Linked DNA regions of Homo sapiens: region 1 is linked to region 2. The links come from fine-mapping of genetic effects on gene expression. A gene starts in region 2. The other region holds a variant in brackets. All regions are shown on one strand. Distances are between the middles of the regions.

The links.
Region 1: its variant is fine-mapped to the expression of NMUR2 in tibial nerve (GTEx, PIP above 0.99).

What each region holds. Positions count from the first base shown.
Region 1 is chr5:152,495,629-152,505,452 of GRCh38, reverse strand. It overlaps the pseudogene RPL36AP20. Among named protein-coding and RNA genes, the nearest start is that of NMUR2, 95 kb to the right of the region's middle. The variant A/G (reference allele first, on the strand shown) is at 5,054.
Region 2 is chr5:152,400,483-152,410,306 of GRCh38, reverse strand. NMUR2 (neuromedin U receptor 2) reads left to right here and starts at 5,028. Exons shown (of 4, transcript NM_020167.5): 1 at 5,028-5,919. The coding sequence starts at 5,194.

The DNA.
Region 1 (9,824 bases), 95 kb before region 2:
TTTCCAGGCCTGAGCATTCTCACACCCAGAACCCATTGACTGAAGAAGTAGGCAAGTCTCCTATGAGGAAAAGACACTGCAACATCACGAGAAGTATATATAGCAGTGATTTCAACCAGCTCTTCCCCAGAAATACCTATCACCATTTTCTTGGGTGACAAAACACTGGGGTAAAGGGACTATTCAATTCATTTGAGGGCTGCTGGATACAGGGTCTGGGTTAATTAATACTGATATTAATTACTGATATCCAAAGAAGTGAAGCAGTATTATGTCCTACCTATGAGACTCAGGGATTAAGTAAATAATAAATGGATTTCTAGCTCAGGTTTCTTAAGTCTCTCCCATGACCACCAGTTGGTCTGTAGATCCAAGACCCTGGATCTACAGACCAACTGGTGGTCATGTCCCTAGATCCCAAGTGTTTTATTAGAAAGGACACAATTAGCAGTTGGCAGAACCTTCACATTTCTTTCTTAACCTGTAGGATAAGAACTATCATAATAGGAAAGATTAGGCTATAGCCACAAAAACTACTCCCATGTCTAGCTAAGATGATAAATCAAAAACAGCATTGCACACAGGTGGCATGACAGATTAACATCATTCTCAAAGACATAAAGGTATAATCTTGGCACTATTGGGGGCCAAGATGGGAGGATTGCTTGATCCCAGGAGTTTGAGACCAGCCTGGGCAACATAGAGACCTCATCGCTACAAAAATTTAAAAATTTAACCAGGCTTGGTGGCGCATGCCTGTAGTCCCAGTTACTCAGGAGGCTGAGGTAGGAGAATTGCTAGAACCTGGGAGATCGAGGCTGCAGTGAGCTGTGATTATGCCACTGCACTCCAGCCTCGGTGACAGAGTAAGACCCTGTCTCCCCCTAACCCAAAAAAGACATAAAGGATGTAGGAATGATAGTCTCCCTCATAATCTTACATAATTAATCAGTCTCATCCCTGCCAAAAAAAAAAAAAAAATGGACCCTGGCAAAACAATAGTGGGTTAAACAATAAATTTCCCAAGCAGAAGTCTCCACTGGGTCTTCTGTGCTGAATGTGATACCTTTACTGAAACAGGTGAGCACAGCCTTGGGTCTGTGGTGTGTGGTTAATAAATTATTTCCCCTGCTCATTAGAAGAGCTTCTCCTAATACTGGAGCATCTCTTGATACTCCTGTGCCTAACTCTTACTCTAAATGGGAAAGTTGATCAAGCACAGCCTGATAAAGGCATGATAACCAGCTCTTCAGACATATTAGAGATGAGGATCAGCCTAAGGCAAGCCACCTATACCTGAGAAGTGCTAGCGGAGAGGGAAAGGAGTCTAGGATCGGGGGCAGAGAAAGGAGTTGAGTATGTTTCAGCTCAGGACTAACTACTGCAGCAGGTGCTGTAGTTCATCCCACTAATCCTTCTCTTAAAAATTTCCCAGGACTCGGCTGGGTGTGGTGACTCACGCCTGTAATCCCAGCACTTTGGGAGGCCGAGGCGGGAAGATCACTTGAGGCCAGGAGTTTGAGACCAGCCTGGCCAACATGGTGAAACCTCGTCTCTACTAAAAATATAAAAATTAGCCAGGCATGGTGGTGGGCGCCTGTAATCCCAGCTACCTGGGAGGCTGAGGCAGAAGAATCACTTGAACCCGGGAGGCAGAGGTTGCAGTCAGCCGAGATCATACCACTGCACTCCAGCCTGGGTGACAGAGTGAGACTCCATCTCAAAAAAATAAAAAATAAAAAATAAAAAAATCCCCAGGACTCTTGAACCCAGAATCCTGGAGAGGCCATAACTGGATAAAATGAATGTCATATGAGAAGCAAGTGGTTCTGAGCAATGTGTAGGGAGGACTACAGAAGGCACCACAACACCCTATCCAGCCCGGCCTGGGTGTGCCCTGGGCTGGCATACCCAGACCCCAGCCTCTGTGAGGCGCTGGCTGATTGCTCACTCTGTGCCTCTCCTCTGGAGAACTGTCCCAGCTGACAAGAGTGGCCTCCCCCAGAAAGTTTTGCATGCAACACCTTCTGGAGGTAGCCCACAGCCAATGGCTGACTCATATGTAGTACGAAGGGCTCACCCCTTTGCCTCAAAGTGTGAGGACTCTGCAGGACAACTCCCTGGGCAGTTTATGCTCTGGAATTCCCCACATCCTCACAGATCAGGTCAAGATTAGGCTTCATGTGGGGCCACATTCTTCTCCCCTACTTCCCCTTGGTGCTTCACTCTCTTTTGTAAGTTTACACCTGAATCCTGGTCTGAGGCTCTGTTTCTATGAGACTTGCCCTAAGACACATGGTTTAAATAAGACATAGGTCTTTGGGGCCCCCAAAGAAGAATTCAGGGACTAGGCAGTTTCAGTGTGATATTAGAGCAGCCCCCAAGTCAGAGACCCAGGCTCCTCTTTCTTCCCTTCAACCTTACTTCATGGCTGCTGCCATCACACCCACATTCCACCTAACAGAAAGTCAGGGTGAGATAGCAGCCGAAGTGTGCACCTCATCATGCTTAGTCTTGCTTAGAAGCTTTCATGGACACCCTATTTGATGGCTTTGTTCACATCTAGTGGCCGCAGCCCCCATCAGTAAGAGAAACTGGGAAAGGTAAGCTTTCAGCTAGCCACATAGATGCTACCCATTAACAGCCTATTAGAAAGGAAGATGGGAGAGCAGAGATGCTGGCAGTCTCTGCTACGGGCCCTACAGTCTCTGCTACTATGGCAATGGGGCCTGACACAAGGATTGAAACCTCCTAAGACAGTAGTCTTTTATAGATCACCTCACCAGAGTCACAACTGATCAGGAAGTATGGTGAGAAGAGTATATTTACCTAGTAGAAGTAAAGAAACAATAATATGTGGAACCAGACATGGCTCCCGGGCAGTCTGGGACCTATTCATGGGTTCGTGTATCTAATTCTAGACCATAGAGGTAGGGATAGGTAAGTGCCTTTTGATCCCAAATTCTTCCTATGAAAGCCACTTTTTCTCACCCTCAAGGCATATGCTTTGTTCTCTAAGTAGAACTTGCTGCATAAAGCCTTAACAAAAATGCCCAGGGCTCAGCAGAGCTTACATTTTATTTATTGTACAACTTTTAAATGCTACAGATTCATCCTCAGTACAACTAATTATCATATCAATGAAATCACGGTAGAATTACCAGAACCACTTTCTCTGTCCAAAGAAGACTCAATAAGGAAAATAATTATATCAAATTTCTGCTTAACATAAAAAAGTTAACCCCAAACTGTTTTTTCCCCCAAAGATTCATTAAACCTTGAGGACCAAAAAATAGCTGAAGAGCTTTAATGTATAGTAACATTTTTCTGAATAATCTTATCACCATTTCTTGAATTTGAGAATCTTCTATCCTATAATTCTACCTCTCCAAGTCCTAATAATGTGCCCATTCCAAACAGATCACTTCAGGAATAATCACACCAGCCATAACTACATAATACAGCCATTCAGTACAGGGAGTAAAATCACTGTTATAAATGAATCACAGGCCGGGCGTGGTGGCTCACGCCTGTAATCCCAGCACTTTGGGAGGCCAAGGTGGGTGGATCACGAGGTCAGGAGATTAAGACCATCCTGGCTAACACAGTGAAACTCCGTCTCTACTAAAAATACATAAAATTAGCCGGGCGTGGTGGTGGGCGCCTGTAGTCCCAGCTATTTGGGAGGCTGAGGCAGGAGAATGGCGGGAACCCAGGAGGTGGAGGTTGCAGTGAGCCGAGATCGCGCCACAGCACTCCAGCCTGGGTGACAGAGCGAGACTCCATCTCAAAAAAATAAAATAAAATAAATAAAATAAAAAAATAAAAAGGAATCACAATATCTTTGTGAAATAGAAAAAAAAGTGTATGCAATTAATATTGTTTTTAGAATTGAAGGCAAAATTGTAAGTCATGTGCTAGAGGTCAGATAAAACAAAGAACTGAAACTTCCTGGTTTCTGTTTCCAGGCCCTGGTCAATATTTTCTTGACTTTTGCTTTTTATTTACACCTTACTCTATGTGGCAGAATCCGCAACTATCCTCTAGTATCCATGTTTCCTTTTGTCTTTTCAGTATAGAATCTCCTGAGGTTTTTTTTTTTTTATTCATTTTTGGTTTTTAAATAGAGACAGGGTCTTGCTCTGTCACCCACACTGGAATGCAGTGGTACAATCATAGCTCACTACAGCCTGAAACTCCTGGGAGCAAGTGGTCCTCCCAAAGTGCTGGAATCATAGGAATGAGCCATCATGGCTGGCCCACTCTCTTGAGTTTTCTCCAGGAACATGGATGGCTGCCCAGGTAAAGGTGGCATTTTCCATCCCAGGCACCTGAACAAATTTGGAAGGAAGTGATATGCAAAACTTCCAGTTACATTCTCTTTTTTTTTTTTTTTTTTTTTTGAGACGGAGTCTTGCTATTCTTAAAGATGTAAAGATGGAGCTGCTTTCCACTGATGCTCTGACGGCTGGCTGACAAATGAAGATCATAGCAACCCTGGAAGTCTCGTGCTAAGGATTAAAGATCACAGAGCAATGCTACTAGCCTCAGACCACTCACCTCTGAACTTGTGTGTGCAACAGAAGATATTTTATATTATCTAAGCTACCATACTGAATAATTTCTTTTTCCTCTTAATACATTTCACCCAATCTCAGACATCAGTCAAAAAAGAAGCCTTACTCTAAGGCTCATTTAAAGTGAAAGGAGTTCAGAGGGACCCAAAGGCAAGATAACTAGAAATTATGTTCCAGGGTGGGGCTGGGTGGGGAAGGGAACCATCTGAAAGAAATGAGAATATGTATATAACTTGAGGAAGGAAAAAAAAAAAAAAGGACACCAGAGGAATTCTCTTAATATTCTTTAAGGATCATTGTGTGTGAAAAGAATTACACTTATGCTCATATAGAACAAGGAAATAAAGTGAGATTAATTTTCAGAAGCCCAATAGAAACAAATTTCAGTCCCTTTAAAGGAAGAGCTTTCTCATAATCGCAACAACCCACAGATATTCAGGAATGTCCCGGGTAGTAATGAGTTTCCTGTCCCTGGA[A/G]GGTAATAATGAGTTCCCTAACACTGGAAGTATGCAAGCAAAATTTTATGTGAGAGAGGGTGGAGCAAAGGTCATGACTCAGACAGAACAAGTCCTAATTCTTTCTGTGTCCAGTTATCAATTGTTGTTTAATAACATGTATCAGCCAAGTCTTCATTTGTAAAATGGGGTTAATTTTAATATTTATGTGATAGAGTTATAAATAACAAAAGATAAGATGCATATGAAAAACTTCCAAAGGAGATGCTAGATGATGCTATTTGGTGGGGATATTTAAGTGGGGTTTAATCATTAGCTAGGGAAAGAGGAAAGAATGGCACGATAAACGGTCCTAAGAGTCTGTGATTCTGAAATATAAATTTCCCTTTCAGTGATTTATAACCATGATGCATAATGAAAACATCTAGCTAACAAAGTAAGCAAATTGTTCCTCCCATTGTGGGAGAGATTTATTTTTTCAAGAATAATTAAATTGAGTGGCCCTTTAGTCACTCTCCACCTACCATTCCACACCCATAGGAATACTCAGAACATTTCAGCCTCCTTGTTGGATGAGAGAATTATAACTTCTGGATACTCCCAGAAGTTCTTCCATGCCTGTTTTCCTATTTATACTTGTATTGAGACAGCCAAGTATAAAGGGGTGCCCGGAGAAACTCCGATCAGCCTGCACACTGGGAGAACGCAGTGGAGCCATGGAAATTCGCGCCCTTTGCAGGCGATAGGAGCCTGGCCTCTCCTGTTCCAGGGTGGTAACCTGGAATTCAAACTGTGAGGCAGGAAGCCTACTAGCAGGACTTGCTTTGCTGAGAGTCCCTGTTTTCTTTTATACCTTTTCATCCAATAAACGCTGCCCTTCTCACCCTTCCAAGTGTCTGCAAGCCTAATCTTTCATGGCTGTGTGACAAGAACCCAGCCTTTAGCTGAACTAAGGAGAAAGTCCTACAACAATATTTGGTCCAAACTTTGGAGTATGCAAGGGGTTCTGAAAGACAAAAGGTGTCTGATACAGAGGAAATACTAAGACCTGGGAGTTGAGAGGCAAGTTTGAGTCTAATGGCTGACACTGACTCCCGGATCTTGAACAAGTTTCTACCTCTTTAGAATTGTTATCCAAGCCTGAAATACAATAGGGTTGGGAAAGATCATGTAGGGACGCTTCCAGGTTCAGATCCTATTGTTTAAATTCAAAGGAGTAGGATAACCCACTCTTGAAAGCCTGGATCACACCTTCGAGTTCAAAAGCTACTGAAGCCCCAGGGTATAAGATCTAGGACAATATCCTTGTGAACCTAGAATGTACAACATTGCCATCTGACAGAAATAAGTTTTGTGAACAGATAGAAATAATCTCTCTTCTCATTAGAGCAACAGAGCCAAAAATACGGATATCCAGGCTTTTAAATTTCCTAAGAATTATATCCTGGTGTGTAGGCAGGGGTTGTTCATATAGAACCAAGAAATGCCAGTTCAGAGATGACCTCTCTTAGGTACTATGAATGATGGCTAAGACTATGGTGTGGCATCTGGAGTGAGTCAAACCTGTGTTTAAATCCAAGTCCTGCTACACGCATTTTAGGTAACCCTAAAGAAGTAATATTTCAGGCCTCAACTTTCTTCCCTGAAGAATGGCCATCTTATTTTTGTTTGTCTTTAAGTGAATTAAATAAGGTCATGAATGTAAAACTCTTAGTACTTTGCCTGGCAATTTGCCCACTGGATTCTTATCTATTTGAGGGTAGGAACTACGATAGTATTCCAAGAATGTCGCCCTTACATGATACATAGTAAGTGCTCAAGAAACTTTGAAATATCTGACACCACATGCCCCAAAGGTCTACTGAGTTGCCCTGAACAATGAAAATTTCTCTCTTCTTTAATTACCTGATACCTGTTTGGTCCAGTAGATCAAGAAGAGAGACAGTATTACTGTTCTTAGATCCATTTTTCCTCTACATCTGCCTTTATGTCATTTACCATATGTACTATATATGCATGGCACTTGGGCCCCACTATATGGTGCAAATTGATATCACTATGCTTTGTCATATTCAAAGCTTCCTGCCTTATGATCCTGTAATTTTTAGATTTTGATTTTTGAGTGTTATGTATATTCTTCATTTGTTTAGACACTGATGGAATTTAGCACAAGTAGTGTCAATCAGATACGGTAGTAAAACTTATAAGTAACTTGAAGTCTCATTAGAATTATAACATAGGCTCTCACTGCACTACCATCCCAAATTGAGTGCTAAGGAAGCTCTAAGTTTATAGATACATTTTCTACCCAGTCAATCATCATTTATGAGAATTGTGCTATTTCACAGAGCTGGAATTTTACATAAGCCAATTGAGACACACTTCTATCAAGACAATTATGACTATAATACCAAAAGACCACTTTTTCAATAATCAACATCATCATTATAATTAGTCAACAAAAAGGGACACTTGCAAACTAGTGAGCTTTTATAGCCAGGATGTTATTAAATATGAATCCCAAAAGGACAAGTGCATAGAAGAATGAACAATGTGTTCCATTAAAAACAGTAATTTGTTGACAAATTCTGCACATAATGATGTATAATTATGAAAACCAATTTGGCTTTGCTATTAGAAAAATCTTTTTTGCAAGTTTAGGATTCTTTTTCACATCTTTGCAAATATTGAAAAACAGTTTTCTTTTTCCAAATGGAAGTGTTTATATATAAATTACTTTTAATTTGTATAAAATTATACTTGCACTTTATATTAAGATCATGTCACTGGGTGAAAATATAGAAATCCTTTCTTATTATCTAGACCTGTCCTGCTCAGTATGGTAGCCATTAGTCACATATGGCTACTGGTTACTTCACAAGTGGCTACCAAAACTGAGGAATTAAGTTTTTATATTTTAACTGAGTCAATTTTAAGTTTTAAAACTGAAGCAATATAAAATATTTTTCAATTAAACATAACTACATTATTGTACATTTCTCTTTAACTATTAAAAATTTAGTGTCTGAATTGAGCTTTGCCAAAAGTGAAATGTATACACAAAATTTCAAAGATTAAATATTAAGAACAATGGAAAATATCTTCATGTTACGATGATTACTTGTTGAAACAGTAACATTTGGGTATGTTCAATTAAATAGAACGTATTTTTTTCTATGTATTTTCACTGTTTTTTAATGTGGCTACTAGTAAATTTCAAGTTACGTATGTGGTTCATATTGTATCTGGACTTAACAGCATTGATCTTTCCACTTAGAAAAATCTACTTTTCCATGATCTACTTCCTGTAATGGCAGTGAAGCTTTTATCAAATTTATTCATTCACAGACAAGATTTATAAACACTAGACAAAACAGAAAATACAACAAAAACAACTGTTTTTTTGAAGGCCTGAAGAAACATTGAAAGCAAGATGAAATTGAAAGTTGGCCTTTGAAGGAAGGGCACTGCCCTGGATAAGATTCAGGTGTAGTAAGCTTTGCACCTGTGGACATTACCCAATCTGCAGGAAAATGAATGGAAAGAATTCAGGAAGAAAGTCAAAGGCATAGGAATGGAAGTAAGGCCATAGAGTTTAGAGCTGCCAAAATAGCTAGAAAGTGAAGGGGAAAATTTAGAAAAGGAGGAAGCCCCTAAATCTACATCTGAATACCTGTCAAATCCTTGGCTAAACTGTAAATACAAATTCAGGGGACTCCAAGTTTCAGACTGTAAAACATTATCTGTGAGGCTGGAGGAACTGAGCAGAGATCTCAGATTTCATCCACTTCAAGAGAGACAATTGGTGTTTAGGTGGACTGCCTATCAGAAAAAAAACAAACATCCTTTAGAAGAAAACTGAATCACAGTCTCTACCATGTTTCCTTTAGAACATGTAGTATAGAATAAACTAGTAAACTCACAAAAGAACATGTAATCCACAGTCAAGAGAAAAAGCAGTCAATAGGTACTGAACTTGAAATGTTCAAGATGTTGGAATTTGCAAACAAGGACTCAAAAGGTATATTAAATCGATGTTTCAAAAAGTAAAGACAAATATGTCATAATGAATAAAGAAGGCAGGGAAACTAGGCAGAAAAATGAAAGCTAAACAAAAGAAAAAAATGAAAATTCCACAGCCAAAGAGTAAAATATCATGAAAATTTATTTGAAAAGGCGTTACAAGAGTACTGGAGACAAGGGGAAAAAAAGATCAGTGAATGTAGAGAGAGATTATCTTCTGTAGATTAGTATCTGAAGGTAGATTGGATCTTAGTAGAAATTATCCAATCTGGAGAACAGAGAGAATAAAGACTGAAAATAAATCAGAAGCTCAGAGGCTTATGGGATAATAATAAGTGTTCTAAAATGTATGCAACAGCTCCCAGGCTGTAGTACTTGAGAAAACATGAGAACATTCCTAAAAGAAATGTGACAAGCATCAACACCGTGAAGACACACAATACAAGGAGATCAAGGAATTTGGTATGCCTAGCTTCATTCTGACAGGAAGCAGAGCAGGCTATGGTGGGCAGACCAAGCAGATTTTCTGGAAAAGTCTCTGTAAAACTACAAAGAAGATTGTGATGAGGCTTAAATGTGTTGAGCCCAAATGCAGATCTAAGAGAATGCTGACTATTAAGAAATGCAAGAATTTTAAATTAGGGAGAGATGAGAGAAAAAGCCAAATGATCCAGTTCTAAACTTCATCTTTTGTTTTATTATGAAGACAATACAATATTGAGTTCACTTCAGAGAGTGTATGTGCATGTGTGTGGAATGGAAGTCTCAG
Region 2 (9,824 bases):
GGTAAGTACAGGTGCAAACCTTGGTGACCTGGGGAACAGATGTCTATATACTTTCCTAGAAGCTATTCTGACTTGCTATACTGCACTAAAAGTTAATTAAAAGCTGGAAGTACTCCTCATTTTAGCAGCTCCAAGCACATCTCCCAGTTTTTAAATCTTGTAATAGTCTTTCTGACCCCAATAAAAAGAAAGACATCCCCATCATGAAATTATCATTATTATTCAATTGCATATCCCATTATTAAATACTTATTTAAATATTATGTTATTTAAAATAATTTACACTGAATATTTTACCAGGAACGATTTAATTCTCCTAGAAATCCTGTAAAGCAATACTGCTATTTTACTCATTTTGCTGATGGAGTAACTGAGGCTTACAGAGTTTAATTATGTTCCTTATGGTCACATAGCTAGTAGGAGGCAGAACCAAGATTTGAATCCCAAAGCTACGCTGCAGTCCGTGCCTTTATTACTTCTATAGCATCTCCCTGCATTGAGCCTGCTACTACATTCTGTACTAGACATCATCCTTTTTGATTAGACCTACCCTGTCACAATGTGGAAATGCCTTTGAATTTTAGATTTGTTGCCTCATATATTAAGAAATATTGGCTGGGCACGGTGGCTCACACCTGTAATCTCAGCACTTTGGGAGGCCAAGGTGGGTGGATCATTTGAGGACATGAGTTCAAGACCAGCTTGGCCAACATGGCGAAACTCCATCTCTACTAAAAATATACAAATTAGCCAGGCATGCCTGTAGTGTGCATGCCTGTAGTCCCAGCCTGTAGTCCCAGCTACTTGGGAGCTACTGTGGTACATGCCTGTAGTCCCAGCTACTTGGGAGTTACTGTGGTGCATGCCTGTAGTCCCAGCTACTTGGGAGGCTGAAGCAGGAGAATCACTCGAACCCAGGAGGCAGAGATTGCAGTGAGTCGAGATTGCACCACTGCACTGTAGCCTGGGCAACAAAGTGAGAATCTGTCTCAAAAAAAACTACAGAACTACAAAACACTGCTGAAAGAAATCATCAATGACACAAACAAATGAAAACACATCCCATGCTCATGGAGAACAGAATCAATACTGTGAAAATGACCATACTGCCTAAAGCAATCTATAAATTCAATGCAATCCTCATCAAAATACCACCATCATTCTTCACAGAATTAGAAAAAACAATTCTAAAGTTCATAAGGAACGAAAAAAGAGCCACATAGCCAAAGAGAGGCTAAGCAAAAAGAATAAATCTGGAGGCATCACACTACTTGAGTTCAAACTACACTATAAGGCCATAGTCACCAAAACAGCATGGCACTGGTATAAAAATAGGCACAAAGACCAAAAGAACAGAATCGAAAATCCAGACATAAACCTAAATACTTATGGCCAACTGATCTTCAACAAAGCAAACAAAAACATAAAGTGGGGGAAAGGACTCCCTTTTCAACAAATGGTGCTGGGACAATTGGCTAGCCACATGTAGGAGAATAAAACTGGATCCTCATCTCTCACCTTATACAAAAATCAACTAAGATGGATTAAGGGCTTAAACCTAAGACCTGAAACTATAAAAATTCTAGACGATAACATTGGAAAAACCCTTCTAGACATTGGCTTAGGCAAGAAATTCATGACCAAAAACCCAAAAGCAATTGCAATAAAAACAAAGATAAATAGCTGGGAGCTAATTAAACTAAAGAGCTTTTTCATGGCAAAAGGAACAGTCAGCAGAGTAAACAGACAACCCACAGAGTGGGAGAAAATCTTCACAATCTATACATCTGACAAAGAACTAATACCCAGAATCTACAACAAACTCAAACAAATCAGTAAGAAAAAAAAATCCCATCAAAAAGTGGGCTAAGAACAGGAATAGACAATTCTCAAAAGAAGATATACAAATGACCAACAAACATATGGAAAAATGCTCAACATCACTAATAATCAGGGAAAGGCAAATCAAAATCACAGTGCGATACCACCTTACTCCTGCAAGAATGGCCATAATCAAAGCATCAAAAATCAGTAGATGTTGGTGTGGATGCGGTGATCAGGCAACACTTCTACACTGCTGGTGGGAATGTAAACTAGTACTGCCACTATGGAAAATAGTGTGGAGATTCCTTAAAGAACTAAAAGTAGATCTACCATTTGATCCAGCAATCCCACTACTGGGTGTCTGAGGAAAAGAAGTCATTATTCGAAAAAAATACTTGCACATGCCTGTTTATAGCAGCACAATTCGCAACAGTAAAATTGTGGAACCAACCTAAATGCCCATCAATCAGTGAGTGGATAAAGAAACTCTGATATATATTGATATATATGGATATATCATATATGGATATCCTATATATCCATATATATGGATATATCATATATAAATACTATATAATATATATTATATATAATATTATATATAATATATCTTATATATATTATATATAATATATATAATATACAATATAATATAATATATAATATAATATAATATAAATATAATATATAAATATATATCCATATATGGATATATAATATATAAATATATTTCCATACATATATATGAATACTACACAGCCATAAAAAGGAATGAATTAACAGCATTTGCAATGACCTGGGTGAGATTAAAGACTATTATTCTAAGTGGAGTAACTCAGGAATGGACAACCAAACATCATATGTTCTCACTGATATGTGGGAGCTAAGGTGTGAAGATGCAAACGCATAAGAATGATACAATGGACTTTGGGGACTTTAGGGGAAGAGAGGGAGGCAGGTGAGGGATAAAAGACAACAAATATGGTGCAGTGTATACTGCTTGGGTGATGGGTGCACCAGGTTCTCACAAATCTCTACTAAAGAACTTACTTGTGTAACCAAATACCACCTGTACCCCAGTAACTTATGGAAAAATATTTTTGTTAAAGAAAGAAATATTTTCCATCTTCCTCAGCGCTAAGTTTATAGTCTGCCACTGTGCACCCTTATAACGATCCTTACATCTAAATGAGATATTCTCATTAAACTTTTCCTATTTCATTAGAAAAATACGTTAAAGTTTGTAAATAGTGATTTTAACATCAAAACTTGCCTTTAACTAGAGGGCCCTAATTCTGGCTCTGCAATACCTATTACATGTCTGTAATTATTATTAATGTTATTGATCAATTTTTCCTACTTTTCCATCTTCTGTGCACATGCTAAGACAGCACTTCCTGACCCTGCTGTAGTCGAATGGGTACATATGATTAACCTTGGTCAATGAGCTGTGAGAAAAACTGGCAATGAGTTACTTACTTTTGGGCTAGAGCCTATAATTACCTACTTAAGACCATCCAGAGCTCTCTTTTCCTCTATCACAATGATAATCAAAATTCCAGAGAGTGACCACTGCATCAGCCTAGGTTTATGAGTGAGCATAGCATGAGACAGACCCTCAATACATTTGAAGTACAAGAGAAATAAATCTGTATTGTTTAAAACCACCAAGATATGTCAATCATTTGTTACAGCAGCGTAAACTATCTTAACTTGAGAGATGACTTATTCTTGGACAAGTCACTTTCCCTCTCTAATTTTTAACGTCATAATCTGATTTAACAAATAAAGGGAAAAAATTAACATTTAGTGAGCATCTCTTAAGTATAAGTTGCTTCGTTATATATAATTTAATTTAGTCTTCTCAATGACCATAAAAGGTATTATCTCCTGCAAAAATATTCCTAAATCCAAAGAAATCTCTCAACTCCACTGCTCATAGAATCCAAGCCACTACTATGTCTTACTAGCCTCTTACCTACCTTCTGTTAAAATTTCTCCCTCGTTAATTCTCCAGTGCAAAATCTTTTAAAGACTTCTCCCTGCCATTTGAATCAGAGCTAAACTCTCTTCCATGGCCTATAAGAGTTTACATGAACCTGTACCTGCCAGCCACTTCAATCTAAGCATTCATACTTTGCTGACCACTTATTAAATTCCAGTTATTCTGGTCTTCCTGATATTTTTAAAACCTATCCAGCTTGTTTCTGCCTCAGGACCTTTGCACTTGCTATTACTTTTGCTGAGTAATACACTTCCCTTAGCTCTTTCATGACTGACTTCATCATTCAGACCTCAGCTAAAGTGACATCTCCTGAGATAAGTTTTCTTTCACCATCCTTGATAAATAATTATTTATCAATTACTATCTGAAATTATATTATTAATTTATTCATTTGCTTGTGTGTTTTCAGAATTCCCTACTGCAAGAAAAGCTCCACTAGGGCAGAGACCTTGTCTTGCTTGTACACTAGTGTTTCTACAAAGCTTAGAACATTCCCTGGCAAATAGTGAATCCTCAAGAAGTTATTGTGGAACGCAATCGAATTAATGATGCAGATAAGGAAATAAGCCTCTAAGAGTTTGGGTAACTGTGCCAACTTTCCTAAATTTCTATGAGTGTTCCTAATTCTGAAGTCCATTTGCCTTTTGCTTACAGCAAAGCTCTGCTGAGACTGAAGAGTCAGTTAGCAGTCAGGGCTAGGCACTGTGCATGCGCCCTTTCAGGCTTCGGATTCTATCGTTGATGCAGTTAAAACCAAAAAGTCACATTAATCATGTTATCACATTAATCCCCAGAGAACCCTGAATTTCCAGTGGAACAAGATAACTTGAGAAATCTATTGATCTCCTATTTTCATCATGCTGTACGGCTGACAAGGGTTAGTGGAGATTGGTATTCTTTTGCCCATGGCCCTGCAACTTTAATTTCTATGTCTACCCAGATTCCCACAACTTTGCAACCTGCATTGCTCAAAGTGCCCATCCATGAAGTTCGAGTGGCTTCTTTTGTGTCAGCTCTGCCTTCCCAGCTCCTTCCCATTCAGGGAGAGGTCTCTGCCTCCTCCCCTGCTTCCTGACTCGAAGCCAGCACCCCTCTCCTCCAGTGCAGCCTAACACACTCTCATTGGCCCTCAGCCTGTCAAGGGGAGGGGCTTGTGTCTCCGGGGCTCTTCAAAAGGGATCGGCGGTCCAGGCAGCCTAACCTGGAGGGTGAAACACTCACTCTCTCCCAGCCTTCCTTACGAAGCCTGTGACTTTCGTGACTGCTTTCTCTTTTTTGTTTTCCTTTTTTCTTTTTTTTTTTTTTTTCCTGGCTCAGCTTGAAACAGAGCCTCGTACCAGGGGAGGCTCAGGCCTTGGATTTTAATGTCAGGGATGGAAAAACTTCAGAATGCTTCCTGGATCTACCAGCAGAAACTAGAAGATCCATTCCAGAAACACCTGAACAGCACCGAGGAGTATCTGGCCTTCCTCTGCGGACCTCGGCGCAGCCACTTCTTCCTCCCCGTGTCTGTGGTGTATGTGCCAATTTTTGTGGTGGGGGTCATTGGCAATGTCCTGGTGTGCCTGGTGATTCTGCAGCACCAGGCTATGAAGACGCCCACCAACTACTACCTCTTCAGCCTGGCGGTCTCTGACCTCCTGGTCCTGCTCCTTGGAATGCCCCTGGAGGTCTATGAGATGTGGCGCAACTACCCTTTCTTGTTCGGGCCCGTGGGCTGCTACTTCAAGACGGCCCTCTTTGAGACCGTGTGCTTCGCCTCCATCCTCAGCATCACCACCGTCAGCGTGGAGCGCTACGTGGCCATCCTACACCCGTTCCGCGCCAAACTGCAGAGCACCCGGCGCCGGGCCCTCAGGATCCTCGGCATCGTCTGGGGCTTCTCCGTGCTCTTCTCCCTGCCCAACACCAGCATCCATGGCATCAAGTTCCACTACTTCCCCAATGGGTCCCTGGTCCCAGGTTCGGCCACCTGTACGGTCATCAAGCCCATGTGGATCTACAATTTCATCATCCAGGTCACCTCCTTCCTATTCTACCTCCTCCCCATGACTGTCATCAGTGTCCTCTACTACCTCATGGCACTCAGAGTGAGTATCTAGGCTGGGGTGGCCTGAGGCAGCATCCCTTCTTTTTTCACAGGCTCAAAGTTCAGAGAAAAACTTAGAATTGGGGAAATTCAGAAATGGAAGGGAACAGAGGGAAAATAGAATGAGCTCAGATGGGAAATTGAGACTTAAAAGGACTTGCCTCAAATGAGATGAATGGTAACCACAACTATTTATCATTTCCTTTAGCTCGTCTTCTATTTTTCTTCCCTCTATTCTTGGGGTTCTCGTATCTAAATGTTCCTAAGAATCATGCAGAAAACTTACTTTGGGAGCAATATGCATACCTCACCCCCAGGAAAATGGGATTCAGAAGGTCTGAGGTGGAGCCTCATTTTAAATAAGCACATCAGGTGATCTGGGGTGAGGTGGCCACACTTTGAGAGACTTCTCCACATCCTGTTGTCACTTTCCAGCCCCTGGCCACTGCCTGCATTGAGATTTTCCTGTACACCAACTTGGTCTGAGTATAACACAAACTATCCCTGCCTATTTTGTAGTCCAAGATAGGTATTCAGTTTTAAAATCAGACATTTACTGTGGTTGCTCCGACCCTTTCATTAAAATGAGGTTGAAACAAAACAAAATAAAACTATATATATTATATGTATAGTTACATATATAATATATAGTCATATATATAATATATAGTTATATATAATATATAATCATATATATTAATGACATGACTGAGATAACTTGAGCTTCTTTTGAGCAGGTGCAGATTGAGAGATAAGGAAGTAAACAGCACATGAGATAGAGTGAAAAAATGTGAATAAGAGCTTATCTGAAATTAAGAAAAAGATATCACTTATTTTGCAACATATATAATTAGAGGTTCTTTTCCTATGTTTATGGTGGTAAACTGATTTCTTTTTCAGAAGGGGGGTGTCTAAATTAGCTGAGAGAAACTATTTTTAATAAGGGTAGGAATTAGTCTATATAATTCCTCTCTGGTATATTCTGCACCCAAATTCATGAAGAGAAAAGTTCTTCACAATGACAATTTTACACCCACTTAAGGGAGGTATTATAGCTTGTGTAGTAAACAGTTACGAGACCATTTAGACTCCCAGATCTACAGCTGACATATAATATGCCTTTAGGCAAGCCACATCATTCTCCTGGAATTAGTTTTCCCGTGTATAAAATGAAAAGGTCACATCAGATCCTATCTATGTCCCCTGTAGCTCTAACAGTCTATTATTCCTTTAAAAAAAGAAAAAAAAACACCTGTGAGCTGAAGTAATGTGAGTTTTAAATGACAGGACAAACAGATATCACATTCACATCATTTGCTTTGAGATGGCTCTGACATCACACTTTATGTGACAACTAATATACTCCTATTTCAGTCCATCTCTGAGAAGCCGATTGTCAGAAGCGAGTGCCCAATGGTAGTCCTTTTGAATACCTATTGTCCCTAAGGTGAATAGCGAGGTCTAAGTAGGAAGAACAAATTCTAAGTGTCACGGACATCTGGGCACAAGAGTAAATCTAATTAGGCAGAGAGCTGTGCCAGTCCCCTCCTGGAGGGCTAGCACCTGTATTCCCAGAGACATGTCCCACCCCGCACTAGCTCACAGCCATGTCTTAAGAACGTCCTGCACATCTCACTGCGGGGAAAAGACTTCTATACAACTCCAAAGAAAGTCTTATGAGAAATACCCACCCACTTAATATTACCTCATCCAATGCCAAACAGTCACCTATTTTGGGTCAATTTGGGAAAAATATTTAACTTTGAGTAGGAAATGCACAGTTCCTCTTCCAATCTGTTACAATCAGTTTCATTGTGTTTTATTATCAAAAGTCCATGGCTACCTTGTATCAGGAGGTAAGTGACAGCTCAGACAAAAGTTTAAAAACCACCCTGGTTTGCTTTGTGTATGTAATGCAACTTTTGACAGCCTGTTTTCAGGAAGGATGAGCTGTTATCCAGGGTACCAGAGGACACCAGGAAAGAAACTAACGCTTACAAAGTCACTTCTAGAAGAATTTAAAAATCTCTATACTGAAACTCAGGAAAAGTAGGCCCTATTCTGTGTCACTGATCGCAGGGCCTTTATGTACACTATACCTGTAGCCTGAAATGTTCCTACTGTCTGCCACCACTCCCCCTTTTGCCTTTCTAACCCTCATTTATTCTCTGTGTCATACTTCAACACGCTTCCTCAGGGAAGCTCTCCCAGATTCCCTGAGCATCCCTGTTTCCTGTTGTAGGTACTCATGGCTCTCCGTGATTTTCCTTCATTACAATTTATATTTCCATACTTATGGATTCCTTAATTAATTGTTTTCTCCCCAACTAGACTGTAAGCTCAGTGAATGAATGAGGCCAAATTACTTCCTTCATTGCTGGGCTTTAGCTTCTCTACCTTTAAAACAAAGACTTGGAAATATCATCTCAAGGAGACCCAAGCAATCCTAATGATTAAGTGAGTGACTCTGTTGGATAGTTTGAAGGTATGATTGACTCTGGGACCCACTGCTTTCAGAAGGCAGCAAGCCCAAGACTGATGAAATCACAGGACCAGAGAAGAAGGAGGAAACCCATATCTGTGCTCACAGCTCGGCATTCAGTCACGCTGCATCATTCCAGGACACAGCCACCACTGAGCTGTTCTCCAGGCTTTGAACATTATAGAGATAGAAAATAGACAATTCTAGGGCAAGTCCCTCCACATGTGGGAGGAAGTTCTGGTGACAGTCTGATTTAGTTCTTACATCTCCTGCATGCTGCATTCATGATTGAGGTGATGAGGATGGATGTATGAATTGCAGCAGAATTCAACCATGCCAACACAGGGTTGCACTAATTTTTTTAAGTAAATAGATTGTGTTAAGATTATAGAGATATTTACACAAAACCTATATTATAATCTGGTATTCTGAAACTAAGTCCCACAAACTATATAAATGAACATCTGGTAGAGTGATTTCAGGCAGTATAAACAACTGATCAGCATAATGTATCAACCTGAATAATAACCTCGCGAACCTCCCTTTCACTTTGCTCTTCTGTAGCTAAAGAAGGTAATCACAATTTTTAGTAATCACACTATATAGTAATGGTAATCACAACTTTTAGTAATCACAATATTTAGTAATAGTAATCACAAATTTGCACTCCTCCTTTTGTAACCTGAGTTGTAAAATAAAAGTTTTGGGGTGGGGAAGAATAATGAATGGTTGAATATCTACTTTACTAAACATCTGTAGGGAAGTGAAATTATTCAACGATAAAGCAGCATTGAATATTGGCTAGACTAACTGTTTTGATTCTATTCTATTCTGTCAACCACTCCAAATTCTGTTGGAACAATGTACACCATATGTAAGTAATCAATTTTTCACTCTTCCTCTAGTTAGCTAGTTAGGTCATTATAAACTAAGGAAGCTGCAAAATAAGCAACAATTCATCAGCACATGATTTTCTTTTTAGTGTAAACTATGCTGCTACAGGAAGCCTGTTCATAAAAGAATTGCGTGAACTATTTGTTTGATGTTTGATTTTTTTAAAAATTGTTCCTTGGGGTGGAGAAATTACCATTGAGAACTGTTAAACACAAGGCAGGAAGTGACTAATATATCTCAATATTTTTTATTGTTCTTAATTATGAACTGAAATAAAATAATAGAATAACTGCATAATGTAAAAACCACAATCTTTAAGTGGCATGAAGTAATTAGAACCTTTAATAGATTTAATCTAAGATGAGTTAGTAAAGTTTGAAGTTTGATACATTGCTCTAACCTTGAATGTGTTTTTCTTCTCAGCATATCTGCCTCCTTTGTATCAGTACAGGCACTCTTTGTGAGCGAGTGGTAACATGAGAAAAGAATTTCTAGAAGGGACTCAGTACTTCACAAAAGTAACCTCACAT